Regions from separate parts of the Homo sapiens genome. Here all the other regions are linked to region 1. Evidence: fine-mapped expression QTL. A gene starts in region 1. Each other region holds a variant in brackets. All regions are shown on one strand. Distances are from middle to middle.

Region 1 (5,075 bases):
GGGGCAGGGAGCGTGGCTGGTGCTGTCTAGGATGGGGACTGAAGTCCAGGTGGCCTGGCTGCAGTGCCCCTCTAGTCACCACTGCACTGTCCCCTGCTGACCCGTCACCTGAGTGCCGTTGTCCAAGGGCCTGAGACTGCCGACAGCCAGACAGATGTGCACACACGCTTACATGCACATACTGTTCCAGTCTGAGGCGTCAAACTACAGGGGCTGGTCCAAGCCTCAGGACAAGGACCTGCAGACGTAGAGATGCAAGGTTTGGCACAGAGAACAGGGCGCCTGCCTTGGTGTTGTCCTGCCCTGCAGCCCCATCTAAGGACAGCCACCACCAGTACAGGGCCATAGGGCAGAAACACCTGGATCCCTGGCAAAGGCTGACAAGCTGGCATGAGCCAGGGCAGGAGGGATGGCTGTCCTCAGCTGGTCAGGGAATACAGGCCAAGTGGACAGGGGCCAGGTGCTCCGGAAGGCACCTTCTTTGCCATCATTTGACATATTTGTGAGTGTGTGTGTGTGTGTGTGTGTGTGTGTGTGTGTTGTAGGCGCCAGGCCCTGACAAAGCTGTGGGGGTGCAACAGTGAAGAAGACATATGGATCCATGGTTCAGGGACCCATATCAGTCAAATCCCGTCTGGAAGGGAATGCGGGTCTCTTGATGGCCACTTACCTGCTCTGCCAGTCTCGTTTGTCTCCTCTAGTGCCACCAGCCACGAGATAGAGCTTTGGGGCTTTGAGCCAAGTGATATCAGCTTTACCTCCAGGGCCAGTCCCCTCAGCTGTAGGAGTCTGAGCAAGTGACTTGACTTTTCTGGGGCTCAGCTTGCCCACCTGTGAAATGGGATCTTAATAGCAGCACTGGCCACATATGTTGTTGAGGAGCCTGCTGCAGAGGAGGTGCTCCGTAGAGGCTGCTGATCACATGCGGGGGCAAGAGGGAACATTTATAAGCCTTGGGGATGGGTGCTGCCAATTGAAATGTAGTACCAGAATATTTTTCTGCAGTGAGAGGAGCTTGAGCTGAATGGGGATCCCTGATGGAACAGAATCACATTTCAGATGAAACGCCTGTTCTCTATCACTCTTTCTCTTTAAACCTATCCTCTGAGTCTCGGCACAGATACCACTTCTTCTGAGCCCCTGGGCTGTGCTGGGCATCGTTTCTGTGCTCTGTGCCTTCTTTGCTCCCAGCCCCGATGACCTTAGAGGACACAAACTCCTCCCTGGTCTGCACCCCATCAGATTGGGAGCACCTGGTGTGAAGTGCCCCTGCCAGAGGCTGGTGAAGGGCAGGTGGGGGCCATCTTCTCCTGCCTCAGCTGTGCTCCCCGGAGCCCCCTGCCTGTGTGGCCCGCCTGTGCCCTCCACCCGCTCCCCACTCACTGCACGGGCAGAGGGTGCCCACTGACCGACGGTGCTGCTGCCCGTGCCATGCCCTGGGGAGGGTGAGAAGAGGGACACCACCATGCAAGTGCGGGGCAGGGCAGCCTGCCACCATAGCCTCATTCCATGTACACACCCAGTCTACCAGAGACGCTGTTGGCCCAGTCAGCTGGGGCTTGGAGAGAGCATGCCAAAGTCACACAGATGGAGAAGTGCAACTCAAACTGAGGCCTCCCTGCCTCAAAGCCCCAGATCCCCCAGCTACACGCTGCCAGGCTGGGGCTGAGCACTGTCACACGGCTGCCACCCAGGCCTGCCTTCCCCACAGCCCGCCAGCCATGCAGAAAAGCTGTCCGTAGTTACCTTTCTTCTCCTTCCACCTGGCACCCCACTCCTCAGGTGGTCACACTCCAGCAGTGCCCTCCCTGGCCCTGGAGGCCCGGCGTGGCTGGTGTCATCTGTGAGGGGAACTAGGCCCAGTTCCTTGGAATTCCTATTTTGTTTCCTTGCCATGGGTCTCAGTGACCCAGCTGATGGCTCAGTCCAGGGACCCCAGACTCTGCCAAGGCATTTCCGTGAGTGAGGAGGCAGAGTCCACTGGAAGGAGGGCGGGAGTTCCTGACAGGAAGTGTGGCAATTTGATCATGCCTGAACAGGCAACGGGGCAACATTTTTTTCTCTGCTCCTAAGTTATTACAGCAATGAAACAGTCCAAAAAGGGAAATCTGTCCTCTCCAGGATTGCCACCCAGGGGGTGGAATTTTTTTTTTTTTTCTTAGCATCTTTTTATTTTTCTCTGGTAACAAAGCCTGGAGCAGGGTGACTGCCATTAACCTAGGATACCTCCCTAATGCTTGGAACAGAATGGAGAGGTGGCTGACTTTGACTCAGAAGCCTGCATACAGCTCTGCCCCTGACTCTTCCACTTTTTTTTTTTTTTTTTGACCGAATCTTGCTCTGTTGCCCGGGCTGGAGTGCACTGATGCAATCTCTGCTCACTGCAACCTCCGCACCTGGGTTCAAGCAATTCTCCTGCCTCAGCCTCCCAAGTAGCTGGAACTATAGGCGTGTGCCACCACGCCTGGCTGATTTTTGTATTTTTAGTAGAGACTGTGTTTCACCATGTTGGCCAGGCTGGTCTTGACCTCCTTACCTCAGGTGATCTGCCCACCTCAGCCTCCCAAAGTGCTGGAATTAGAGGCGTAAGCCACCATGTCTGGCCAACTCCTCCACTTTTTAACTGTGTGTCCTCAGGCAAGTCACTTTATTCTCTGAGCTGCAACTTCTACCACTGCAAAATGGAATATTGACCCCACTCTGACTGTCCTGCAGACTTATTCTGAAGCTCAAATAGAAAACAGCCAGCCCCAAGTGGCGTGCTGTAAATGAGTGTGGGCTCTCCTGTAGCCTAGAACAAAGGCGAGGGCTGTGGGTTTGGAAGAAAAAGAATTTGCCTCTTAGTCGTTACTCTGTCCTGCTCATTCAGCACTGGCTGAGGGGACATGTCCTGTATTCCAGCCCCAGGCTGGCTCAAGGACAGTACTGAGAAGGCAAGGGCCTCATGCACACCAGGAGGTTGTGGGAATCAGTTCATCACATGGCCATGTTGCCTCAGACGCCAGAGAAGCACCTTCAATTTTGGCTAGAACAGTTTGCTCCCAGAAGCAGAGAGCAGTGCAGAGTCTGGGCCAGAGCCAGGGACAGGCTTGGTGAATGCAGAACGTCCAGGAGGCAAGGTAGGGCTCAGTCCACAAAAGAGAGATCGAAAAGTTAGCAAAGTACGTTTAGTAAAAAGCACACAATAAAATAAAAGGTGTGGAGTACGGCAGACATTCCAGGAACCTGGAATGTGAAACGCACGTGGAAACGTCCGGCCCTGACATGCACGGTGGTGGGAATGTGGCTGCTCAAAGCAAGTGGGGAATCAAGACTTCCAAAGAGGAAAACCACCCTCAGGAGTTAGGTTGGGGATGTATTGAGCACGCCAGTCATTCAGTGCAATCGTCCTTCTGTGTGTTAATCAGTCAGGCATGCCCCGGGAGAAGTGGCTGTTTCTTGAACTGGATTTCAGCTATGCAGCCTGGTTTCCTCATTGAGTGGTGGGCCTAGAGCAGCATTCTGATGTGCAAATCCTTAATTATAACATGACCTAAAAAGGCGGAGGATTCCCCAGGACAGTGTGGAGGAGGCACCACATCAATCTCAGCTGGATCTTGGAGACCCCGCTGGAAGAGGCGGCTTCTGAGCGGACAGAGAAGGATACGGGGTGAGAGGACAAGGAGCCAAGGCCTGCAGGCACAGATGCCTGCAGTGTGTGGGAGGAAGTGAAATTGTCAGTGAAGCATGGTTGGGGCCTGAAGTACAGGAGATGGGCAGAGGAGGGGCAGGGACAGCTGCATCCCTGTGCATGGAGGGCCCCTCTGCCCCTATGCTGTCCTGATAGGGACTGCATTTTCATCATCTCATTTACCCCTCCTCATCCCATTGCTGTGACTCCCCTCTCTATACCCTCCCTGTTTCCTCATCTGTAACAGTGGGGACCTCACCAGATTTTGCTAAAGCTCAAATTGGATCAGGTGTCCCCTCATCCCGTTAAAAATTGCTTCGTAGTCCTCTGTTGGGTTTGAAAACTCAAAAGGAACCAGAAATTAGGCAGTGGACATGAATGTGCAGCTACAGCTGGACAGAAAGTAAAAGAGCGGAGATGGGTCCCTCCCGGATCCAGATGGTAGCTAACCAGGGTTCCTGGTAGCCACAGCACTTGCCTCACCTTCAGCTCCTACTACATGTGCACAGCTCATGTTACATGTGCACAGGGCTTTCCCAAGTGTGTTCACCTTCATGATATCGTTTAGTCCTCAGAGGAACTATCAGACCTACATTTCGGGGCAACTGAAGTTCAGGGGGAGCATGGAGGAGCCTGCCTCCAAAGCGAGGGCTGGTTCCCCATTCCACAGGGCCATCGGCCCTGCACTGCAGGCAACTGCTAAGGAAGCGACTCCTATCACAGATGAAGTCATAAGACAAACATCCCCAGATGTTCTGGGCTGGGGCACGTTCTGCCTGCTCTGACACTCACTGGTTCCTTCATTCAGTCATTACTTGCCTGTCTTTATGAAGCTCCTACTCATTCAGGTTCTCCTGACCTTGCTCAGGCCCTCACTTCTGACTGCCCTGAACTGTGCTCACCCTTCAGCACTTAACTCTCTCGCCACCTCCTCCCAGCAGCCTCCCCAACCTCTCGCTGCCTCTGTGCTCCATGTGTGCCTTCCCCTCTGCACGTGTGCTGCTGCTCACGTGTGCCTTCCCCTCTGCACGGGAGCTCACTGTGGGCAGGGATGGTGTGCGTCTCAATGGGCTGATTGTGTCCCCTCAGATTCACATGTTGAAGTCCTCACCCCAAGTACCTGACAATGTGACTGTATTTGGAGATAGGGTTTTTGAAGAGGTAATTAAGGTTAAATGAAGTCATATGCATGGGGCTGTATTCCAGTATGCCTGGTGTCCTTATAGGAAGAGGAAATGAGGACACAGACACACACAGAGGGATGACCACGTGAGGACGCAGGGAGAAGGCAGCCACTTCTGCCAAGAAGGGAGGCTTCAGAAGGAACTAACCTGCTGACACTCTGAGCTTGGACTTCTGGTTTCTAAGACTGTGAGACAATACATTTCTGTTGTTTAAGCTGCCC
Region 2 (5,075 bases), 36 kb before region 1:
ACAAGGGAGGCCTTACTGCTAAGTTGCCACGCCAGGTGGGAAAGAGGCCAAGACTGTGAGGTCAATGGTTGCTGCAGTGGTCCCTGATTTGTACCCCCTCCCTGGATCGACATCCTTGGGGAGTTAGTCCTCTCTGACATTTATTCTGCACGTGGCCATGGGACTTGCTTGGGCCAAAGGGACACCAGCAAACGTGCATGCAAAGTGCTTGCACATTGTGCACATTGGGACTTTCTCCTTTGGCTGCTGTTGGAAGCCCAAGAACTTTATGCAAGGCAGCCCAGGCCCCCCTGGCCCAGGGTGGGAAGCCAAGAAATGAGCTGGCCCACTGACAGCCCGTGAGACCAGGCCACCTGCTAACACCCAAACACAGGCGTGAGACCATCCCAGGTCATCCAGCCACTGACCAACCTGAAGCCACCGCAGACACATGAGAAGGCCCAGCAGAGATTGGCAGAGCTGGCCCAGAGCAGAACTGCCCAGCCGACCCACAGAAGTGAAAGCACAGGAAAATGGTTACTATTTGAAGCCATTAAGTTTTGTTTTGTTTTTTAAGAGACAGGGTTTCGCTCTGTAGCCAAGGCTAAAATGCAGTGGTGCCATCATGGCTTAAGTTTCGGGGTTTTTAAATACATCAAACCTAACCTATACAGATAAATTAATGAAATTAATGGAAGCAAGTGAGAGCATTCAGGCAGTCTGACTCCATAGTCTTCACCCTTAACCACTTTCCTGCTCCAGCTTTCTGAGCATTAGGGCCCCCATTTGTAAAATGAACATGAGAAAACAGTCTTTCATTACAGGAGGAGATCAAAAAAAATGAAAAGCATGAACACAGTTGGTCAGTTATAAAACATTACATAGACACCAGCCATTATTCTTATGGATAAACTCTCAATAGCCATCAATAGAAGGAGTCTATTCAAGTAGTATAGACAAATGAATAGACAAATGATTGAGGAGTCATTTCATCTTGAGTTTGGACTATTAGAGAGGCCTAGATTATTCCCCTCCAGCAGGGCAACAAAAGTAAGTGAAGCCTCCTCTTCTCAACCTTACTTCCAGGCCCCCACTCTCCTGCTCACCTCTCCCTGAGACATTTTTATTGTTCATCTCACTCAGCTGAACAACCTGGTACCCTCAGCTTTTAAGACATCGACAAGGAAGGGAATTAGCCTTTAAGAAGCTCATGCTAGGTTCCAGGCAGTACATATGTGTATATGTGTGTGTGTGAGAGAGACAGAGAGAGAGAGAGAGACAGAGTGTGTGTTTCCGTTCAGCCTTATTATAGCCTTTTGAAGTAGGTATTATTACCACCATTTTACAAATGGGAAAACCAAGGCTCAGAGCCATTAAGTAACTTGCAGCAGAACTGAGATCCAAACTCAGGGATTTCTAATCCTAAGGCTTGCAATCTTTCCACAAATGCCTAAAAGTGATACTTTATGGATTTGCCTATTTAGAAAGAGAGCAGCGTTTGTCTGACAATATATCTTGAGTCTCCTACTCTCACTCCCATAGCCAGCATCTGTCCCCTTCTCTGCAGCTCCCCACCTAGCCCAGTCCCTTCCCCTGAACAGCTGGCTCCTCTGATTCCACTCCTGGCTTCCCCTCATACTCCATTACTGGAACAAACCAGTCCATGTCACATTCATCTCAACCCTCCCTGCATACTCGGCACAGGCACACAGTCCTCGCCGTGGCCTACAAGGTCTTATGTGATCTGGCCCCAGCTCCTCTTTGGCGTCATCAGCACCCACACATCTCCTTGCTCTTTCCCAGACGTGCCATGCCTCCTTCCGCCTCTGAGACATAATACTCTTCTCTCTGCTGGGAACAGTTCTCACCCTTGGCTCCTCTGGTCTCTGCTCAGGTTTCCTTCTCTGAGCAGTCTTCCCTGATTGGCCTTTCTAAAACAGCCCTCACCACCCTCCTGTCCTGCTTTGTTTTCTTCCTAGGACATGCTACTGTCTACCTTATGTATCTGTCTGCCCACTAGAATGTAAGCTCCAGGGACAGGGTCTTGTTAATCATTGTGTCTCCATCCTATAGTGTGCCAGCCCTCGCAGGTGCTCTACAAATGCCTGGC[G/A]AGTAAATGAAATAACGAATGAGTCAGAGGCCCAGAGAAGAAACCCCATCCTCATAAAAGCCCCATGAAAACCACAAATAACCTTGGAATATTAACATTATGATGAAGGTGACCAAACAGAAGGCATGACATGCTGAAGACCATCCAGGTCTTTGGGGTAGACTGCGGACCCTGCCCAGCATTCCTCAATTAGGGGCTAGAGCATCATGAATGGGATGGTTCATCCCACAGGACTGTCCCACTTTATGCAGAGTTCCAGCATCCTTGGTCCCTGCCAAGTCAATGCCAGCAGAGAGCCCCAGTCATGTGACAGCCCCAAACACTTCTCACATTTTGGGACACCCCCAAGGAGTATGTTACTGTTCCCTCCCCGTCATGGTGAACTCTCACCTCCATCTATGCCCATGATGAAGCGTCCCACGATGAGCATTTCAAAGGCTCCTGCCTGGAGCGAGCAGGCCATCAGCAATGCAGCAGAAATTGCAAACCCATTATTGGCCAGCAAAGTGTGCTTCCTGGAAAGAAAGGAAAGATTTGATGAAGATGTCTAACCATGAGGCATGTCACTGAACTGTCCATCCCAGGAGCAGGAGCCAGGCCCTTCTGAAGGGTGAGTAGAGCAAGACTCAGGCACAGTGCAGGGAGCACTGGCCTTGCCACCTCTGGCTGTGTGACTGGGTTCAGCCCTGGGGTCTACTAGGTCACTTACAAAGGCACCATCAGCCTTGACATCTATGAATTCTCTGTGGTAGTATTTTATTGCTTTAATTCTAAGACTATCATTTAACATTTCTGAAGTCAGTGGTCATCTTACAATTCGTGAGTCAGGGTCCAGGCAGGAAAATGGAAACCACTCTAGGTATTTTAATGGAGAGAATTTAACATAGGGAATTGGTTAAGTGGATATTGAAGAACCGAGATGTCAAAAAGGAAGACCTCTGAAGAAGGGGTGTTTCCCATGTGGTGCTGACACCTCAGGGGCATGGAGGAGGGCCCCGAAGACCTTTGAGAGTGGGCACTGTCCACTGGACTGTTTCCTCTGAGGAGCAATATGATTCTGGTTCTGGAAATGGACAAAAGTTGGAAGCTGGAATCAACTGCCAATGTCATCACTGGGACTGGCAGGAAACTCAGACAAACATGAAAAAGCTAGTCTTTTCTCTCTCCTCTAGTGCCCCTATTGGCAAAGGACAAATGGGGGTGCAGGCCCCAGCCCCAGCATCAGAGAGAGAGAGCCCAGAAGGGTAAGTGTGGAGCTAGGAGACAACAGCTTGACAACCAGCATAGCGTTCTACAACTTTTGTTGGCTCCTTCCCTCCCTCCCTCCCTTTCTTCCTTATTTCCTTTCCTTTCCAGTGGCTCATAAAATAACAATACTCCTCAGACCCAATGGCATCTTAGATTTGATGAACTACAGTACTAAGTGAATGGCTGGACTAATCCTCTCAAACAAGATTAGGGAAATTTCCATGGCAATAATTATTATTAACAGCTCTGTGTCAGGACTGCCATCACTTTTATAAACACATGCCTAAGACCTCATGGTTCAAATACCTGACTTGTTTGGAGGCCTGGGGACCTGGATTCCTGCACCAGCTCTATCCTTCAGGAGCTAGGAGACTTTGAACTTCATTTCTCTGTGTTTTCTTTTCCTCACTTTTGCAAAATGATCCTAAAAGCCCACATTTATTGAACTCTTGCTATAGGATAGACCCTGCTTTAAGTACTTTGCATTAGTAGCTCATTTAATCCTCAGAATGACCCAAAGAGATAGGTACTCTTATAATCTCTATTTTATAAACAAGTTAACTAGGTTGCTGGCAAGCTAGAAACTTGTTTTATTTTTAATTTTTATTTTTGAGACAGAGTCTTGCTCTATCACCCAGGCTGGAGTGGATTGGCACAATCTCTGCTCACTGCAGTTTCCACTTCCCAGGTTCAAGTGATTCTCCTCCCTCAGCTTCCTGGGTAGCTGGGATTACAGGCATGCACCACCACACCCAGCTAATTTTTGTATTTTTAGTAGAGACGGGGTTTCACCATGTTGGCCAGGATGGTCTCAAACTTCTGACCTCAGGTGATCTGCCTGCCTCAGCCTCCCAAAGTGCTGGGATTACAGGCGTGAGCCACTGCGTCCGGCCTAGAAACTTGTTTTAGGTCATATAGTCAGTGAGTCAAGGAGTTGGGGAAACATCTTAGCCCTTTACGGCTTATTTTTTTTCCTATAGACTCAATGAGTTAACAGATATTAAATTGTTTTGTAAATTGTGGTTAAAAAATTATTTTGCCCAATAGAGCCCCAGTGGGTCTCTGATCTTAGAACTTGCGCTCTTCCCACCAGCTAACATTGCCTCTTGTCATAAATTATGGGACTCAGTTATGGCAGATGCTATTATACTCATTATATAAAAATATAAGTTTTTTTCTCTAAACCAGCCTCTCGGGAGACTGGGGCAGGAGAACTGCTTGAACCCAGGAGGCAGAGATTGCAGTGAGCCAAGATCATGCCACCGCACTCCAACCTGGGTGACAGAGCGAGACTCCGTCTTGAAAAAAAAAGAAAAGAAAAAGAAAGAAAGAAACATCAGTGAGGCCAGCCTGGCTGGAGGCAGTAGGGAGCCAGGGAGCAAGCAGTAGAAAGTGAAAGTTGAGAAGAGAAAAGAAGAACTCAGAGAGTCTTCTATGCCACCATAAGAACTAGCGTTTCCCCCCTGGGGGAGATAGCAGCCACTGGGAGATTCCAAGGAGAGGAATGACACCGGCTAATACTTGAACAAGATCACTACATCTTGTCTTCTCTGTTGCTCCTGGACTGCAGGGGACAAGTGTGAAAGCAGGGAGACCAGCTGGGGAGCTACCACAACAGGTGAGTCAACCACTGGTAATGATTTGGACCAGGCTGGGAGCAGTGCACTTAGTGAGAAGTGGTCAGATCCTAGCATATTTTGAAGAGTGAGTTGGTGGGATTTGCTGATGGACTGGACAG
Region 3 (5,075 bases), 89 kb after region 1:
GGTTGGAGATACCTGCCCAAGCAAAAAACATTTCAGCAGATGACGACACAACACTGATGAAGGGGCCTGCTGTGCCCTCCTTTAGCTGCCAACTGTCCCCGGGAACCCCAGAGAAAGTCTCAGGCGTCCTCCATGGTCCACCCAGGCCAAGTGAGCGTGAGCTTCCAGTCAGGGCACTGGCTTTGTAAATACTCCAAGTTCCTGCAAGCAACAGAGGCTGAAAGCTGTTACTGCTGTAACTGACCTGTGCAAATATAACTGGCCAGGGCCCTTATGTTCACTGGTGACTACAACTAAGGCCAAGGCTGAATGACAGCAAAAAACCTCAGCTCCAAAGCAGGAATGTAAACTTCTGCGACAACACAACGCCTTCTCCTAATTATCTTTTAAGGCCCAGGCAAAGGGCTTCTCCTCCAAGCAGCCTTCCCTGATGCTCCAAGCTAGAAATCATCTCTCCCACCCTGAACCCCCACCTTCCCTGACTCCCACCCCACTGCCCTCACTACTTTCCACCTTGGACTACACATCATTTGTGCCCCACCTGCCTTCTGTACTACGTGGACACCAGAGTGGGGAAGGTTCACACTTGATTCACCATAGCAGCTGCCAAATACCGACAAAGACCAGAACTTGGCTGGAGCCTGGTAGCTGTTTATCAAGAAACAAATCCCCACCGGCCACTTACTATTCACTCTCAGACAGGCCCTGGGTGGGCCCCTCAGTGGATTCTCTTTGAAACCTCACAACACCTGCTGTAAGGAAGGTAACCTCATAATCCCACATGACAAAGAAACCAAGGCAGACACTGGGCGATACGCCCCAGGCCACCCAGCTGTTAAGTGGCAGCGCCAGACCTGAACTCAGGGCCAGTTGCTGACTCACCTGGGTTATGAGCATATAACTAACAGCACGGTGAGTCAAGGGAGGTAACAAATGCTCAACACCTTCACACAATCCCAGGTCACGTCACTGCAAATCAGGGACCATATGTGGCGGCCTTTACTCCTCCCTGTGGTTTTGTTGTCTTCCTTACGGTTGGTCTCAATGTTAGTGTGATTCTTTAATACAGAGAATAAAGTCTGCACTGGCCAACCAGCTGTGTGCTTCCAAACAGTGTACAGGCAGCTCCTTGAGCTGGCTGAGGACGGGGTGGTCACTCACAGGCCGCCATGCCCTGAACGACTTTCCCCTCCTGCCTCCCAGCTCAGCCTCAGATGCCTTGAAACAGGCCTGGGGGTACTCACCGTGTGGCCCTGCACAGCAGCACCCCTCATTGGACTACGTGTGAGCGGGACACCACCACCTCCGTTTTCAGTCTTCCCCTCTCCTACTCCCCACCCAGGGCCCACCAGGGCCTTAACTGATGAGTTGCAAAGGTAGACCTGGGGGTGGCTCCCAGGGTTCAAATTCCAGCACCTTCCAGAGGTTCAGCATCCTCACCTCTCAAAAGAGAGATGAGGGTATCCACCCAACAGGGCAGTCATGAAGACAAGAGCAGAGGTCCCTGCCAGGGCCCAGACAACCTTCTGAAGATGCTTTACGAATTAGCTCCGTTAAATCTTACACTGATCCCATGATAACATTCCTCCCACTCTCGCAGGCATGGAAACAGAAGAGGCAAGCACACCAAGTTTCAGCCACAGACCAGCACAAAATACACTCAACAAAGAACAGAGAGGTGCTCAGGGGTATACACTGGATTGGACAGTGGGGCGGGGGTAGGGGTGGGATGCTGGCCTTTCCCTGGAGAGCAGGCAGGACCCATACGTAGAAGTGACAAGCAAGGTGACCAAAGCTAAGGACCCACAGGTCTAAGGAGCAGGCACATCGCCAGGGCAGGGAGTGCCTGCCCATCACTGAGACGGCGAAGAGACGCACACAGGGCCCTTTCCTGTGTCCACAGCTGTCCCTAACAAGGGCCTTGCAGAAGGTGGAGGTCACTCTCCAAAGAAGCATCTCCAACTACTCTTGGGCAAGGCCATCTCTCCAGTAGTCTTACGCATGAGGCTAAACCTCTTCTCTTACCTCAAAGATGGCTTCAGTATCCCTCCCGTTACCTCCAACAGGGCAAGAAATGTACCAAAAGCAACACACAGGAGGCCACAGTGGGGCTGAGAGGACCCAGGTACACATGCTGTTTCCTGCCTGGTTTCTCCCCACCTCTGCCGTGTGTCTCAACGCTCCTCCTGGAGAACTCTTATTCATCCTTCAAGACCCAACTCAAATGTGGCACTTCTCCAGCAGCTGTCCCCGCTCTGTGGCACAGCTGGCTCCTCCCTCACATTCCCAGAGCACCCAGGGCATTGTTCTTTTGAAGCACTTAACCTGGTGCCTTCGAAGGTTCTTTACCAGAGTTTTCAACCTTGGTACCCCTGGCATTTGGGGCTGGACAGTTCTTTGTGGAAGGACGGCCATGTACCTTGTCGGATGTTTGGCCACA[A/T]CCCTGACTTCAGATACCAGTGGCACAAAAATGTCTGCAAACGTTGCCAGATATCCCTCAGGGGAATGAGGTGGGGGAAATTACCCCTCCCTGAAAATCACTGATTTTAATCCTGGTCCTCTGTGGCTTAGGGTATGGCTTGCCAAGACAGGGGCTTAGTGAACATGTGTGGGAAACGTGAGAGCCAGAGATGGCTGCACCACGCAACGGAACCTGCGCTGACGCCGCCTTCATCTTTGAGCAGCTTCCTAATTGGCTTCCCTGCCTCAGATCTCAGATACAGAACTTCTCCTTACCGTAGGCTGGATCTGATTACTTGTCTGTGAGACCTCTGAATGGCTCCAGTGGCCTTCAGAGCAGGGCTGCGCTATGGTAGGGCTGTGTGAGCCACCTGCCACCACTGCACACCAGCACTTCTCAGCCTGGGTCCTGTCCACTCCCCTCACGCTCAGTGCCACAGTAACAGCCCATAAGCACCCGGCCCTTCGGTCCTCCCAGATGTGGTCCCATCTGCAGAAGCCCAGCGTCCTGACTGGCACCTGCAGCCACTCAGATTCTCCTGAGATGAAGGCCCCCCACCACCCTCTGCTTCCCCTGCCATCAGGTGGTCAGACTGAAGGCCTAGAGGTTCCTGGCTCTGCACCTGGCAGGCGCTGCTGCCAGCTCGTTTGCACCCAGGTGATAATCCAACGCACCACTTCCTTCTGCCACCTAGAGTTTATTTCACTCCCACCCAGGACAGTGAGCTCCATGTGGGCAGGGCCTCCATCCTGCACCCCCACAGGCCAATGGCCATCTGGATACACGCAGGTAGTCAGCAGGCGTCCAATTCCGGAGAAGCAGCTAGGTCAGTCCTCAAGCCCTCTGTCATGCCACCATTACCCCCAACCCGCAGGAAACACAGGTGAGTCCTCTGCATGTGAATGGTGGCAGCTCACACCAAGGGAAACCAAGAGTGAGCCCAATACCCTCCCCAACCCCCCACTTGGTCTGCCCCCTGTTCAAGGAGAAAAGTCCACTGATACTGCGCCTGGGTTCCCAGCAGTGTCAAATTGCTATAAACCTTGCACTCCCGGAAACTCAATTTTATAGACATCATTTTTCCAAATGTGTATTTTAGTTCTGGAATCTAGGAACTGGATACTTTAAAAACCAGGCCCCAAACTTGCCTGCATAGCAAATCTGCTGGCTGCCTGGCAGCACACAAGAGGGCCTCTGTTGTGAGGCAAAAGTTGCTTTTTTTTTTTCTTTTTCTAAACAGGGACTACTGGCACTACTGGCATTTTAGGCTGGGTAATTTTTATTGTAGGATGGTCCCGTGCCCTGTTTAGAATCACAAACAGGTTCGTTCACAGCCATTGGGGGTGACCCTTCCCAGTCTTTGCACAGAGGTCATAAGAGGCAGAGGTGATGCAGGCAGGGTAAGGAAACTTAGAAGGAACCACCCCAGACCTAAGGAGGTACCAGCACCTGCAGGAAGCCTTCCTTAGACCCCCGAAGCACAGACTATCCATCCCTTCTCCGTGGGGAACTAATGTCTCTCAAACACAGTGTACATATGGTTCACTGGAATCCCCTTCTTGGAGCTCTCTCCTTCTGGAATATTAGTTTCTACATGGCCACCATTATAGTCTTTCACTCTACAGAGGAGAGTTGCCTCTCCAGGTGAGGCAACGAGATGTGTTGAAATAAACAGGTAAGAAACACCCTTTTTCTACAAGTTTAAGAAGTGCCATTATGCTGGGTTCACAAAACAGCTTTTAAGTCAACAAAATAAATGACAGAGGGGGCTCCAAGTGCAAAGCTGGCAACGGTGCTCGCCTCTTAGGTATGAAAGGCGATTCCACAAAATTTAGGTCCGGCAATCTACACTGAGCTGAGCTTTCCTTGTTCTCATGCAGTAAGACCTCAGTGGCTGCCTATTATCTTCACGACACAGCCTGGTTTTCCAGGCTTTTTAATCAATGAGTAACTCACTGAGCACCTACTGTGTGCCAGACACTCTCTTAGGCGAGGACACGGCAGTGACTGAAAGAGAGGGGAAAGCCCTGCTGGCCTGGAGCTGATGCCCAGTTAGGGGGACAGGCAGATACCTATGTACACTTGTAGGCAGCCGTAGCCTGCTGCTTGTTAGCTTGCTTCCTACTTATTGTCAGCAATGAGAAAGACAGAAGGCCGGGGATGGAAAATTCTATTCCGGGGACACCCCTCTACTAAGGTGACTACATCTAAGTATAAACCAAAGGGAAAGGCCTAGTGTGGTGGCTCACGCCTGTATCCCAGGACTTTGGGAGGCCAAGGCGAGCGAGCAGATCACTTGAGGTTGGGAGTTCAAGATCAGCCTGGCCAACACGGCGAAACCCCGTTACCTACTAAAAAATACAAAAATTAGCCAGGTGAATTGGCACGTACCTGTAGTCCCCACTACTCGGGAGGCTGAGGCAGGAGATTTGCCTGAACCCGGCAGGTGGAGGTTGCAGTGACCCAAGATCACGCCACCGCACTCCAGCTTGGGCGACAGTAAGCCTCCACCTCAAATTAAAAAAGAAAAACCAAAGAGAAGACAGGGAGCAAGACTTGCAGCTATCTGAGAAAATGTCCAGGCAAAGGCAATAACTAGCAGGTACCAAGACAG
Region 4 (5,075 bases), 42 kb after region 1:
CGTCTAGGTTGATTCCAGTTTGGGGCTATTGAACAGTGCCGCTCAAATGTTCCTAACCATATCTTTGGCTGGGCATAAATGCTCCATTCTCCTGTATATTCTTAGCCATGGAATTGATGGGTGCAGGATAGGCATATGTCTAATTCTAGTAGATGCTGCCAAACAGTGGAAATCCATATTTTTAAAATTGAAAATTATTTGTAATTGACACATAATAATTGTACATATTTATGGGACACATATTATATTTTGATACATGTAAACAAAGGTATAATGTTCAAATCAGGGTAGTCAGCATATTCATCACCTCAAATATTTATTATGTCTTTATGCTGGAAACATTCAAAATTCTCTCATATTTGAAACCATTATGAAAACAAATTATCAACTACAGGGCCATAGAATGCTATAGCTTATTCCTCCCATGTAGATGTAATTTAGTAACAATTAACCAACCTCTCCCTATCCTCCTCTCCCCATCATCCTTCCCAGCTTCTAGTAGCTACAGTTCTACTCTTTACTTTTCTTTCTTTTTTCTTTTTTTTTTTTTTTGAGATGGAGTCTCATTCTGTCACCCAGGCTGGAGTTCAGTGACGTGATCTCAGCCACTGCAACCTCTGCCTCCCAGGTTCAAACGATTCTCCTGCCTCAGCATTCTAAGTAGCTGGGACTACGGGTGCGTGCCACCACGCCTGGCTAATTTTTTGTATTTTTAGTAGAGACGCGGTTTCATTGTTAGCCAGGATGGTCTCGATTTCCTGACCTCGTGATCTGCCAGCCTTGGCCTCCCAAAGTGCTGGGATTACAGGCATGAGCCACTGCACCCAACCTATTCCTTACTTTTATAGGCTCAACGTTTTTAGCTTCCACATACAAGTGAGAACATGTGGTATTTACCTTTCTGTGCCTGGCTTATTTCACTTACCATATGATCCAGTAATCCCACTACTGGGTATATATCCAAAGGAAAGGCAGGGAAATCCATTTCCCAAAGAGTTGTCTGCACTCCCATGTGTATTGCAGCACTATTCACAATAGCCAAGATATGGAATCAACCTGTGTCCATCAACAAATGAGTGGATGAAGAAAGTGTACATACACCTCGGAATACAAATTTGACCACGAGAAAGAATACAATCCTGTCATTTGTGGCAATGTAGCTGAGCTGAAGGAAATCCGTATTTTTATAAGTCGTTACAGATAGGGGTGGTCTTGGACCACACTTTGAGAAATGCTTCTTGGATAAAAGCCCCATTATATGGACAAATATATTTCCTTTAGTCCTCAGTTCAAGTAGAGAAGGGCTTGTTTATACGGAGATACCAGCTAAGTGATTTGGGGAAGTGGGGAGAATGAGAAATCAACTGAGTGCCACCCATTAGCACCCCTTCGGAACAAATTATTGCAATTTACCTCTTTTGCCCAAGAGAAAGAAGCTGAGAACAGAGAAGCTTTGATAGGATTTGATAGGGAGAGTGAGGCGCCAGGCCACCGTGTCCAGTTAACCAAGCCTCCTCCCACCCTGGCCATGAGCTAGAATAATGCTCATGTATTTGCTGGTTAAAGGAGATGGCTTGGGGACCTGGGTTATCCCTGCAGGGAGCAACTATCTCCTCTGCTCATCTTAAACAAGATAATTGCAAAGCGGTTCCCTGCCAGCCCATCCTCTTAACAAAGAAGGTGAGATAAAAGAGATGGCATTCCTCCTGCTGGGCCCAGCAGGCTTGACAACCAGTGCCAGTCATGGGGAAAATGTCCCTTTCAGCCAACTCGAGATCTTTCAAAACAGACCCAGGCAGTTTCTTTGAGGGCTGAAAGCCAGGAAACGGGTTCCTGTTGGCCGAGGCTTGGAAGGAGGGCCTGCCTGGTCCGTTGGCCCATACCAGGCTTCCTTAGCGCCTCTGCTAGGAGCCAGTTATCCTGCAGGCTGACTCAGCCTCTGCCCAGCCATGATCTGAAGCTGCTCTCTGCTGTTTTAAGCTGAGCACTGCAACCAGGGACCTCAGACACCAGAGACAATGCAGGCCTCCAGAAAGCAGGAGAAGGACTTCTAAATCAAGGCTGGCAGGAGGAATGGGAAATGGGCATTCAAGGACATGGCAGTATGCTATGCTCTGTACATCAGGACCTCATGGAAACCAGAAAGGTAGGATGATAATTCCTATCCATGCCAGGCTGGACCTCATGTCCCTCATCGGGCTCCCACAGCTGTGTGAGCATTCTTTACCAACGTGGCACTTCTGGAATCCCTTGTTTACCTTCTTCTCCACTGCTCTATAAATGTAGTGAAATTTCCAGGT[G/A]TGGTGGCTCATGTCTGTAGTCCCAGCACTTTGGGAGGCCGAGGTGGAAGGATCACTTGAGCCCAGGAGTTTGAGGCTGCAGTGAGCTATGATGGCACCACTGCACTTCAGCCCAGGTGACAGAGTGAGACCCTGTCTTTAAAAAATAAAATAAATGCAGTGACACAAGACAACCTATGTCTGTTTTATTCTCAAAGCTGCGTGTGTCCCCAAAGCCAAGTGAGGTGTCTGGGCCTAGTTAATGACCAATGAACATTGGCTCTGAAGGAGTGAAATTACACCACTCGGGCATATTGACACTAAGTTAAAGCCACTTGAAAAACAGCAGGTGTGGCCGGGCGCGGTGGCTCATACCTGTAATTCCAGCACTTTGGGAGGCCGAGGCGGGAGGATCACGAGGTCAGGAGATCGAGACCATCCTGGCTAATATGGTGAAACCCTGTCTCTACTAAAGATACAAAAAAAAAAAAAAAAAAATTAGCCTGGCGGGGTGGTGGGCGCCTATAGTCCTAGCTACTCGGGAGGCTGAGGCAGGAGAATGGCGTGAACCCGGAAGGCAGAGCTTGCAGTGAGCGGAGATCGCTTTACTGCACTCCAGCCTGGGTGACAGAGCAAGACTCCGTCTCGAAAAAAAAAACAAGAAAAAGAAAAATAGCAGATGCAAGAAGATCACTCTGACCTTCATGCCATTTGTTAAAAGCAAAAGATGAGATCCCTATGTGAAAGATGCAACAGTCTTATTCTCAAAGATGAGAAGCTAAGATGGAAAGAATTCTGTACCAACCTTGTGCAAATAACTCTTACCTTTTAAGCCTCCCCACATCATTTAGTTGCTTCTTCACAACTTACTATTATTTGTCCAATTCAGTATATCTGACTACTTCTTCAGGACTTTATTTCCTTATGAGGGTACCTGTGCTACATAAAACTTGTATTTAAAAATGTGCATGCTTTCCTCCTGTTCATCTGTCTTATGTCAGTTAAATTCTCCAGCACAAGCAGGACCCTAAGAGTATGGAAGTGGAATTTTGCTGCCCCTACAGTTGATTACATGAGTGAATAAATGATTGAGTGAATTTTGAATTATAACGAAGAAGCTAAATATCTCAGTCATGGTTTTTCTTCCTAAGAAAATTAATCTGTTAAGATCACAGAGTTGTAACAACAGCAACAAAAACCTAGCTCTTTAAAAATAAAAAGGAACTCTTTTCTGAATTAGCAATGTCCGGAGAGATTTTTGGTTGTGACGACTGGGGCAGGGGGTACTACTGGCATCTAATGGGGGCCAGGGATGCCGCTGACACCCTGCAATGTACAGGACAGCCCCCACACAAAGAACTGTCCCACCTGAAATGTGAGTAGTTGGTTGTGCTGAGGTTGAGGAAGCCAACTCAAGGAAGTCACCTGCCGGAGGGATGCTGTTGACACTGCTTGCTACAGCAAAAGCTGCTGCTGAGAATGTGCTCCAGTTGAAAGCAAAGACTGAAAAACTGAAAAGAGCCAGGCGCGGTGGCTCACACCATAATCTCAACACTTTGGAAGGCTGAGGTGGGCGGATCACTTAAGGTTAGGAGTTTGAGACCAGCCTGGCCAACATGGTGAAACCTGTCTCTACTAAAAATACAAAAATTAGCTGGGCATGGCGGCATGTGCCTGTTAATCCGAGCTACTGGCGAGGCTGAGGCACAAGAATTGATTGAACCTGGGGGGCAAAGGTTGCAGTGACCTGAGATTGCGTCACTGCACTCCAGCCTGGGCAACAGAGCGAGACTCCATCTCAAAAAAAAAAAAAAAAAAACCAGAAAAGAAAGGAATAACTGAAAAGAGCAAGAGCCACTTAGAAGCCAGATATGGTGGTGCGTGCCTGTAGTCCCAACTACTCGACAGGCTGAGATGTGATGATCCCTTGAGCCCAGGAGTTTGAAGCTGCAGAGAGCCATGATCGCACCACTGCACTCCAGCCTAGGCAACAGAGTGGGACCCAAGAAGTTTTTTTAAGCCACTTAGAGAAGGTTTTACAAGTTACATGAGCAAAAGCTAAATAACTAGTACATCCATGTGCCATAAAGTGAAGAAACGGATGAGGTCTCTATGGGACATGTCAGCTAAACCCAAGAATGTGTTTGTTTCTTGTGGCTGAGACAGTGATCAAGGCAGCTTTCCTCCCAGGGCAAAGACTGTGGTTTGTTTGCGGCCATTTAATTTGGCAAAACCTGAGTTTTGATGAATACTTTGCAATCTTCAAATAATATTCATTTTGTTTCCAAATCCAATGAACTAGAGGCTGTAATTGAAAGAAGAAGAAAGGGAGGGAGGTAGGACAGAGAAAGGAATAGAAAGAGGGAGGGCAGGAAGGCAGCCATGAAAGAAGGCGTAATTGTCAAAAATCCAAGTTATTTGAGGCATACTGCTTGACCTGACTTTATGCAGTACAAACAAAATCAGGGTAAGCTAGAATTCAGAAGACAATGGTACCACTGTGTTTCTCTCTGGAGCGTTCTCAGAAGTGTGACCTTTTCTAATCCCAAACTGCTTAAAAAATGATGTCTCCTTGGGGTGCCATTTAGATTAATCTGTGATGGGACCAGAAGCGAGCTAAGCTGATGATTCTAATTCAATTGCCAGTGAAATGGTGTCTGTCTCCATCTGTAAACGTCCTCATCCTGCTCTCAATGGGGCCACATTGACGGCTGCAGCCAGCATTATCCCTTACAATCCTTTTAATTTTTTGGCTGCATGATGTGATCTTCTGTGAAGGCAGCACTAGTTCAAACG
Region 5 (5,075 bases), 190 kb after region 1:
TGGATTCTGTGGTTTTTTTAGAATCCTTCATGACTTGTCCCTTCACACAAGTTGTACAAATCTCTTCATAAAAAATAACTGGCACTGTAATCTCACACCATGGGCAGTTCTTCAGGGACCAAGGCTCATGTGTGACTGCTGCTCAGTGACCGAGCTTGTCCTAGAGCCTATAATATGGTAGCAGTACACTTGGAAGTGACACCCCATCGCCAGGTGGCTGCGTTCCAAGTGTTGGCAGCTCACTGACAGTGGGAGTATGGGAGCCTGTGGGTGTTTGCTTGGGGCACGCATTGGGGCAGGCAGGATGACTGTGTCCTGCTTTGTGTCCTCTCTTGTGAGGCCTCTTCTAGGTGGCTCTGTTCCATGTCAACATCTGCCTCAACTTCTTCCGAGACAACCGTAACCTTGGATAGTAAACTACATTACCTCTCATTCTAGTTCTTTACTCTTTCACTCAAGAATGCTTTCAAGTCTCAAGTTTCCCAGTTCTTCAGAGGCTTAAAGGCAACCTTTAGCTTGAGGAATCCAACTTAAGGTTTTAGGAAATGACAGATGTAAATGTAAATAATCCCAAATGCATGGCAATGTCAAACTTGCAGCTGAGATCACCTCACAGTTGGAGGTGTACATCTCATTCCATCTGAATTCAAGCAGACATACATTACATACACCAGGAGAGTTATGTGGAGGTACATACAGAATAGTCAGTGGCACTTGGAACATAATAGCTGACTGTACTGGCAAATATGAGATGGCTGTGTGCTCACACGGACCTGACAGTTGACCTTTCATCTTATAAAATGTATGACTCACAGTCCATCATTGGTCATTTGGACAGTCACACTTGCAAAAAGGTTCTGGGTACTTATTGCCATGACTGTGTCATTGTTGGCAGGTGTATGGGGTCAACTTGAAGGCTTCTGGCCTACCCATGAGTAAGATGAAGTACATCCTTAGGGGGAGGCATCTGGACTACCCTTTGGAGTGGAAACCAATTATTACCCTAGTCGTAATGCCAAAAATCCTTGTTTCCTGCCATATTGAAAAGCCTGATGAGAGGACCTTTCTGTTAGGGAAGGGGGATATGCACTTGTGCATAGTTTTTCTAGTGGGTGACTTAAGTGCTCCATTTTCTCTAGCCATTCAGCTCTGCCTGAGCTGATCTTCAGGAATTTCTATTGCCATGTTAGACCAGACATTGCCACCACAGTTGTATGAACTCCCTCAAGGAGAGAGCACTGAACTCTTCCAGGGCGGACAACTCAGAAGAGCCACTTCAGGAGGATCCATCTCTTCAACCTAGACATTTACCCCTTGTCCACCTGACTCTTTGTAATGACTTCTGGATTCTGTTCTCAGCTGTGCTGGGAATACATCTTGATTTGGCTAGGGTAAAGGCAAGCAGGCACTTGCACGTCTAATTTCTGGCCTCTGGTCAGCTCCAGGTGTTGGACCTGGGCCCTGCAGTATGTCCTGGTGAAGCAGGTTAACTGGTGGCAGTCTTAAAGGTAATGGGGGAATTGGTATGCTAGGTTTTGGGCTGTCACTGCCTTCTGCTCTATTCCCTTGGCAGAGAACATCATCATCACGTGGGACAGTTCTTAGTCCCCTTCACTGATGTTCCTGGTAATGCAGTTGTGCTTGGGAGTTAGAAGCCTGCTGTCCCTGTTCAGTTTCTACTGACAATTGTTTAAATCTGGGATTTCCATGTTTTTCCCCTTGACTTCTGGAGTTCACTCCTTGCCTCTTGGCTTCTTCATAGTCAGAAGGGGAAGCTTGATCAAGAACAGCTTTTCTAACTCCTAGTGCTGGTCAGTGCTTCTGCGGGTATTCTCAAATGCCCTGTATTGTGCAGAATCCAGACGTTTTTCTTACGGCATACAGTAGAAACACTAAGGCCAGAACTGTCTTTGTCCCGGACGTCTTTGCTAACGTAGGAATGCCTGCATGGGAAAGAGAATGGTGTTGCACGGTTGGTGATTAGAATCCTGTGTGTAGAAAGCTGCCAGTAGCTGTGGGATTGAGTATCCTACACTGTCGCAGATGGCAAGGGGCCCAGTGTGAGGTGGGGGATGACGGGAATCTGAGCCGCCTGGTTTTCTAACTTAAATCTGGCCTTTCTGTACAAATACTTTATAACACTGTTTCTGTGCCTACTAGAACGTTTGCCTGGATGGGACTTCACAGCACCTAGCTCATACTGAGCAGTTATAAACAGTTACCTGATGTTTCATGGCCAGGAGCTCACTTTCTAAGGCCCAGTAACATGCTTAGAGATAGCTAGTAGAAGGCTTATCTGAAAAAGGTGCAGACTTAGGCTAGTATATTAGGGGTGTGCAATATACCTTTTGCTATGGAGTCTGCTAGAGAGCACCCGTGACATCCTCTCCTGCCTTGTCTCTTATGGGATTACATCCATGGTAACAGCTTAGACCAAAACTAGCTGTGGAGCCCTCATTTTCTTGGAGTCCTCCTCAGAACTTTTAGCCATTTGAGCCCAGAAAAATGGTTTGGAGTAGTCGAGTGTGACGTATGCTTTCTCTGAAATCCAAAAAATCCTACCTATTTTGAAAGTACACTTCATGGTAGGAGAAAAAGATGCAAGAAATTCTCCCATAATTTCAAAGTTGGAAGTAACGTCCCTGCATTCCTTAGATAACTAAAAACATCAGTGATGTCACTGAGCCCCTGGGCTTATAAGTTTCTCCCTGTCTCTGGCGCACAGGTGTTCTCCAGGGTACTTCCTACTTTCCTGTTGCCCAGGTCTGACTTAAGTGATACCAGTAAGTGACCCAGCAGGCTCTTCTGGGGAATGTCAGCATAATTGAGACCTCTGCAAATGATATTGGGGCAAAGATCAGGAGAGTTACCTTGAGAGTGAGACTGAATGTATACTTTTTCCCATTAAAAAGAAAACTGATAGTGGACCCTCAATGAGGATGAATGAGAGAATGTATTTTTCCAGAATGGCACTAAATGCCAGAAGAGGTAGTTATTCACCAAGATATACCATAAGTTGCATGAAAGCCATAATACATACTTCATAGTACACTCCCATCTGACATGGGACTCCAGAAGATTAAAGACCAATTTCAAAAATGCAGTCAAATATAGAATGACATCCCTTCCATACTTAAAACT[C/A]CAGAATAGGCACATGAAAGAAGATCCCTGCCCCACTGATTTACTCAGTTTGAACCAGTGATCAGTGAGGCTTTCTGTGTTTGGCATTCTTCTGACCCCAAGTCCAAGTAACAAGTGTTTCAGAGGGACCATTCTAGGACTGTTTTGAGCCCTTGGAGCAGCTGTCCCAACACTTTGGGGGCAGGGTATTTTTACTGGTATAAAAACATTCACATAGAAATCCAAGTTTCTCTAGAAGTGGTGTCCTAGCCCAGGATGCTGTCTAGATGAACAGTCGAGGAGTGACCCACTAGCTTCCCTTAACCAGTGCCCAGGCCTGTGAGATGCCAGGAGCAACCACAGGGAGAGATGGCAATGACAGCAGCAGGACTTCTTGTTGGGTCTGGTGCCTCATGAACATGCCACATATCCATCCACCACCTCCAGTTGGGAGAAATGTCTTGCCAGAAGTAGGTCCTTCTGCCAGTCTTCACACATTCTTCATAGCTAGAATGACTTAGAATGCTCAAGCCAGTGATGGAGGGAAAAGGCAGAGCCTAGGAATGAACACTCCAGAGCTTAGGTTCAGTAAGCCACCTCCACTCAATGTATGCAAGTCTTATCATAGGGCTTGAAAAAGATAATTTCAGGGGGAAAACTCACTGGATGTTTTTCTAACTTCTATGATCTTTGATGTTACCTGATACTTGTATTGCCCCAATATGATCTGCAGGTGTGTTGATTATACCCTGGTATGCAACAAGATCTTCAAGGTACCAAGTCACCTACATTCATGCCCAGAAGCTGTTGCAGACTCCAGTCTTCAACTCTTCCTTAAATTTCTGTCCCTTATCCTAATGTTGATTGCCACAGAAATCACTGAAGCTCCATTCACACCTGTCCCTACTCAGACTGTGGCAGACAGGAATGGAGATCAAGTTCACAAGTCTACCTGTAGGATTGTATGATGCTTGGGAGGTTCAGGATGCAGGCAGCATGTTCTTAACAACAGTCCTTGCCCTTTACAGAGCAGACAGGTGAGTGAGGCTCTCTAAAGAGCAACTGTTTGCCATGAGGAGGTAAATAGTTGACTTAACCCCTGCAAGATATGAATTGATCCATACCACAGAATGGTTTCCTTAACTCCCTAATGTCCTTGTGTTATATTACCCTAATCTGTGTGACATTGTAGAAATGTGGATGGTGTTAATGTCACTTGCCGTTCTAATGCTGTTTCTCGGACTTGGTATCTCCTTAGTTTACCTGATCTGTTGCTTGATACTTGAGTTAAAGCAACCCTAATCCTAGCAGAAAAACCAACTTAGAGGTGAAAGTTAAGGATTTTTAATGGTAGGTTTGTGAATTTCCCTCTAAGGGAAGATACAGAACTTTTCTGCCTATTTCATATTTAACCCTTGATTACAGATCCTAGGTAGGCTGGGCTGGATGGGAAAAAGAGGTCCTGTGGTGTTTGGGGCAGCTGGTCATTGGATTTCTGCCAGCAGAGATGTGTTCTTGGCTGCGGGTTCATTAAGGGTCCTGCAAAGTCCCAAAGAGAGCACAGGGGCAAGAGGGTGGGATGGGGGCAGCAAGGGGTCCTACCTGGGTCCTGGCTGATCTGGAGTGATGGGGACTGGGATGTGAGGTCCACTTGCCAGGATTAGATGCTTCAGACTTGTGAAGGGAGACAGGATGGGGAAGGGGACCTTCCTTGGCCAACCTGTCAGTGGGTAAGGCTGAATCACTAAAATCACTGGACAAATGTCTCATGATCAAAACGAATGTTGGCAACTTTATTTTTCCAATAAAGCTTGAATATTAGGTGCAATAGTGATAGGTTTTCTGGTCATAGAATGATCTAAAGAGAATCATAACACTTTCAATTCTCTCTGCATCTTAAGTCTTCTGTTCTCTTTATTACTTGGACTTGGGCCGTGGTTGAAACCCAAGAATCC
Region 6 (5,075 bases), 23 kb after region 1:
AAGAAATTAATAAATTCATAGAAACATATAGCCAACTAAGATTAAGTCATAATCAAACAGGAAATCTGAGCAGATCTATAACTAGTGAGGAGATTGAAGCTGTAATCAAACAGCTCTCAACAAAGAAAAGCCCAGGACTAGAAGGATTCACTACAGAATTCTACCAAACATTTAAAGAACTAACATCAGTTCTTCTGAAACTCTTCCAAAGAACTGAAGAGGAGAGAACACTCTCAAACTTATTCTATGAGGACAGAATTACCTTGATACCAAAACCAGACAAAGACACAGCAAGAAAAAAACACTATAGATAAACCCCTGATTAATATTGATGCAAAAATCCTAAACAAAATACTACCAAACCAAATTCAACAGCATGTTAAAGGGATCATATATCATGACCAGGTGGGATTTATGCCTAGAATGCAAGGATGGTTCAACATATGAAAATCAATCAATGTAACAAAATGGAGGACTAAAACTGCCTGATCATCTCAATGGATGCAGAAAAAAATATTTGACAACATTCAGCCCCCTTTCATGATAAAAAAAACACTGAACAAACTAAGAATAGAAAGAAACTACCACAACATAGTAAAAGTCATACATGGAAAACCCACAACAGACATCATACCCAATGGAGAAACACTGAAAGCTTTTCCTCTAAGATCAGGAACCAAGCAAGGATGCCCACTCTCACCATTATTATTTGACATAATACTGGAAGTTCTAGCCAGAACAATCAGAAAAGAAAAAGAAATTATTAAAGACATACAAACCAGAAAAGAAGACTTAAAATTATTTCTATTTGGAAATGACACAGTCTTATATGTGGAAAACCCTAAAGATCCTACCAAAAAACTGCTAGAATGAATAAACAAATTTAGCAAAATTTCAGGATACAAAATCAACACTCAAAAATCAATTGTGTTCCTATACACTATCCATGATCAATTGAAAAAGGAAATTTTTAAGAAAACAAGTTCATTTACTATAGTATCAAAAAGTATAAAATACTTGGGAATAAACTTAACCACCAAGGTAAAAGACTTGTACATGGAAAACTACCAAACATTGGTGAAAGAAATCAAAGAGGATACAAATAAATGGAAAAACATCCAATGTGCTTTAATTGGAAGGATTAATATTGTTAAAACGTCCATATTACCCAAAGCAGTCTACACATTCAATGCAATCCCTGTCAAAATCCCAACTGCATTTGTTGCAGAAATTGGAAAAAAATACTAAAATACATATGGAATTACAAGGACCCCAAATAGCCAAAATGATCTTTAAAAAGAACAAAGCTGGAGGACTCACACTCCCTGATTTCAAGACATAATACAAAGCAACAGTAGTGGTACTGGCATAAAGATGAATATATAGATCAATGGCAGGAGCAGACAGCCAAGAGACGAACCCCTGCATTTATGGCCAAATAATCTACAAGAGTTCCAAGACCACAGAGTGAAAAAAGGATAGTCTGTTTAAAAAATGGTGTCAGAAAACCTGGATATCCACCTGCAAAAGAATGAAGTTGGACTTTTCCCTTGCAGCAGATATGAAAATCAACTGAAAATGAATCAAAGACCCAAATGTAAGGCCTAAAACTATTACACCCCTAGAAGAAAACATAGGAGAAAAGCTTCAGGACATTGGATTTGGCAATGATTTATATATGACACCCAAAGCACAGGAAACAGAAACAAAAATTGGCAAATAAGACTACACCAAACTCAAAAACGTTTGTGCATCAAAAGAAACAATCAACATAGTGGAAAGGCAACCTATGGGAGGAAATAATTGCAAATTATGTATCTGATAAGGGATTGCTATGCAGAATATATAAGAAATTTCTACTACTCAACAACAACAACAACAAACAAATAAGACAATTTTTAAATGGGGAAAGGACTTAAATAGACATTTCTCCAAAGAAGATATGAGTGGCCAATAAGCACATAAAAAGATGCTCAATATCACTAATCATTAGGGAAATGCAAATCAAGACCATAATGTATTGTCACCTCATCCATCAGGATGGCCACTATCAAAAGAATGGAAAATAATAAGTGTCAGCAAGGATGTGAAGAAGTTGGAGCCCTTGTGCACTGTTAGTGGAAATACAAGACAGAAAACAAAATACAGAAGTTCCTCATAAAATTGAAAATTGAGTTACCATATGATCCAGCAATCCCACTTCTGGGTTTATATCTAGATGAATTCAAAGCAGAGTATCAGAAAGATATTTGTACATACATGTTTTCAGTACAGCATTATTCACAATAGCCAACAGGTGGAAGCAACCTAGATTCCCATCAACAGATGAATGGATAAAGAAAATATAGTATATACATAACATAGACTACTATGCAGCCTTAAAAAGAAGAAAATCCTGTCACATGCTACAACATGCAACAATTTCAAAGACATTATGCTAAACACAAAAAGCCATCTGCAGAAGAACAGATACTGTAGGGATCTATTTTAACTCTATAGTATCTAACATAGTCAAAATTATGGAAACAGAAAGCAGAAGGGTGGTTAACAACAGCCAGAGGGAAGAGAGAAGGGGAAGTAGCGTCTAGTGGATATAGTTTCATGGTTGCAAGATGAAAACATTATAAAGATCTGTTGCACAATAATGTGAATATACTCAACACTACTGAACTGTACACATAAAAGTGGTTAAGAAAGTTTATTTTATTTTTTATTTTATTTATTTTGTATTTATTTATTTATTTATTTATTTTATTTATTTATTTTTTTTTGAGACGGAGTCTCGCTCTGTTGCCCAGGCTGGAGTTCAGTGGCGTGATCACGGCTCACTGCAGGCTC[C/T]GCCTCCTGGGTTCTAGCGATTCTCTCCCCTCCAGCCTCCCGAGTAGCTGGGACTACAGGTATGCGCTGCCATGCCTGTCTAATTTTTTGTGTTTTTAGTAGAGATGGGGTTTCACCATGTTGACCAGGCTTGTCTTGAACTCCTGACCTCAGGTGATCTGCCCGCCTTGGCCTCCCAAAGTGCTGGGATTACAGGCGTGAGCCACGGCACCCGGCCAGAAGGTTAATTTTAATTTTCTGTATTTTTACCATAAAAAAGAGCAAAAAAAGTAAACACACCTTTTTATGAGATAGTCATATAAAAAGACTAAATCTCTGGGTTGGAATATCACAAAGTCCAAGTGAGGAGGTTTGAATGAATAAAGCTCACTGTCAATGCTGTGACATATTTCCACATCTCAGTAATAATTAACACATTCCATGTTGCTGACTCCAAGAATGGTATTTCATTTATGGCTCAGAAGACCCTTGAGTTTGTGGTTTCTGTAATCATTTGTCTTTGGAACTATTTCAAATGGAGAAATGCCGATAGGTCAGAATCTTCCAGTTCAAAGTGTCTCTACCTTGAGCCTGACTAATCATCTCCATCTGAATGACTATCCATTCCAAGACAAGCAAGAGACTGTTACTAGTGACCTAACTAGTACAGGAAACAATAATTTGCTGTGCTTTTTTCCTTTCAAAAATATCTTATCATTCATCACCTCATTTAATTTTCACAGCAATATGGTATATTACTCTGTTTTCACACTACTGTAAAGAACTGCCTGAGATTGGGTAATTTATAAAGAAAAGAAGTTTAACTGATTCACAGTTCAGCATGGCTGAGGAGGCCTCAGGAAATTTACTTTTTTTTTTTCTTTCTTTCTTTTTTTTTTTTGAGGCTGAGTCTCGCTCTGTCACCCAGGCTGGGGTGCAGTGGTGCAATCTCAGCTCACTGCAACCTGCGCCTCCTGGGTTCAAGTGATTCTCCTCCCTCAGCCTCCTGAGTAGATAGGACTACAGGTGAGCACCACCACGACCAGCTAATTTTTGTATTTTTAGTAGAGACGGGGTTTCACCATGTTAGCCAGGCTGGTTTCAAACTCTTGACCTCAGGTGATCCAACCGCCTCAGCCGCCCAAAGTGCTGGGATTACAGGTGTGAGCCACCGCACCTGGCCGAAATTTACTTTCATAGAGGAAGGCAAAGGGGAAGCAAGGCACATCTTACGTGGTGGCAGGAGAGAGGGCAGAAGTGCCACACACTTTCGAACCATCAGATCTCATGAGAACTCACTCACCATCACAAGAACAGCATAGGAGAACTGCCCCCATGATCCAATCACCTCTCACCAGGCCCCTCCCACTATGTGTGGGGATTACAATTCAAGATGAGATGTAGGTGGGGACACAGAGCCAAATCATATCACATGGTAAGCCATGACGTTTAGAGTTTATGCCTGTTATGGGTTGAACTGTGTCTCCTTGAAAAGATATGTTAAAGTCCTAACCTCCGGGACCTATGTATGTGCCCTTATTTGGAAATAGACTATTTACAGAGGTAATCAAGTTAAGATGAAGTCACTTGGGGTGGGCCCTAATCCAGTATGACTGGTATCCTTATAAAAAGGAGACTGTGACACACAGGGAGCTCTCCTTGTGTCGTCCATATGATGACAGAGGAAGAGCTTGGAGTGATGCAGCTGCCAGCCACAGGATGCCAAGGGCCCATGGGCACCACCAGAAGCTGCTAGAGGGAAGGAAGGATTCCACCCAGAGGCTGCATGACCCTGCTAACACCTTGATTTTGGACTTCTGGCCTCCAGCACTGTGGGAGAATACATTTCCGCTATTTGAAGCCACCTGGTTTGTGAGACTTTATTACAGCAACCCTAGTGACCTCATCCAATACTGCTTCTGTTTGCTCCATCTGTGACTGTGATGAGCCACTGACACTTTAGCTTCTCCCAAGTTCACCAGCCCTCTCTGTTCTCCTCTTTTAAGCCAGATCCCAGATTTTACCTTAATATCCACCCTTACTCTAAAGTCTTCTGCCTCCCTTCCTTCTTCACAGTTTTACGTCAGCATTCCAAGCCGAGATGGCTCCAACTCTCCACTTTCTCTTCTGCCTTGTGGACAGGCCAGCCAGGAAGATGGATTCTGTGATGGTTTAATGTGATGGTTCTGTATGCATCAATATGCTTGGACTACAAGGTGCCCAGACATTTGGTCAAACACTACTCTCAGCATTTCTGT

The links.
Region 2: its variant is fine-mapped to the expression of SLC2A9 in whole blood (TOPMed, PIP above 0.99).
Region 3: its variant is fine-mapped to the expression of SLC2A9 in whole blood (INTERVAL, PIP 0.99).
Region 4: its variant is fine-mapped to the expression of SLC2A9 in whole blood (TOPMed, PIP above 0.99). The same link has a PIP of 0.9 or more in monocytes and monocytes after Pam3CSK4.
Region 5: its variant is fine-mapped to the expression of SLC2A9 in whole blood (TOPMed, PIP 0.95).
Region 6: its variant is fine-mapped to the expression of SLC2A9 in blood mononuclear cells (TOPMed, PIP above 0.99).

The regions. Positions count from the first base shown.
Region 1 is chr4:10,019,534-10,024,608 of GRCh38, forward strand. It overlaps SLC2A9 (solute carrier family 2 member 9), which reads right to left and starts at 1,964. Exons shown (of 12, transcript NM_020041.3): 1 at 1,747-1,964. The coding sequence starts at 1,896. RefSeq lists an enhancer at 1,446-1,945.
Region 2 is chr4:9,983,190-9,988,264 of GRCh38, forward strand. SLC2A9 (solute carrier family 2 member 9) reads right to left here. Exons shown (of 12, transcript NM_020041.3): 4 at 2,480-2,604. It overlaps SLC2A9-AS1 (SLC2A9 antisense RNA 1), which reads left to right and starts at 4,934. Exons shown (of 4, transcript NR_183862.1): 1 at 4,934-4,955. The variant G/A (reference allele first, on the strand shown) is at 2,090.
Region 3 is chr4:10,108,384-10,113,458 of GRCh38, forward strand. The region is part of intron 2 of WDR1 (WD repeat domain 1); the gene reads right to left. Among named protein-coding and RNA genes, the nearest start is that of WDR1, 5.9 kb to the right of the region's middle. RefSeq lists a silencer at 3,202-3,496 and an enhancer at 4,940-5,075. The variant A/T (reference allele first, on the strand shown) is at 2,441.
Region 4 is chr4:10,061,949-10,067,023 of GRCh38, forward strand. It overlaps LOC124900665 (a long non-coding RNA gene), which reads left to right and starts at 2,066. Exons shown (of 2, transcript XR_007058029.1): 1 at 2,066-2,146. RefSeq lists an enhancer at 1,395-2,009. The variant G/A (reference allele first, on the strand shown) is at 2,301.
Region 5 is chr4:10,204,641-10,209,715 of GRCh38, forward strand. No RefSeq gene overlaps it. Among named protein-coding and RNA genes, the nearest start is that of WDR1, 90 kb to the left of the region's middle. The variant C/A (reference allele first, on the strand shown) is at 3,142.
Region 6 is chr4:10,042,345-10,047,419 of GRCh38, forward strand. No RefSeq gene overlaps it. Among named protein-coding and RNA genes, the nearest start is that of SLC2A9, 23 kb to the left of the region's middle. The variant C/T (reference allele first, on the strand shown) is at 2,839.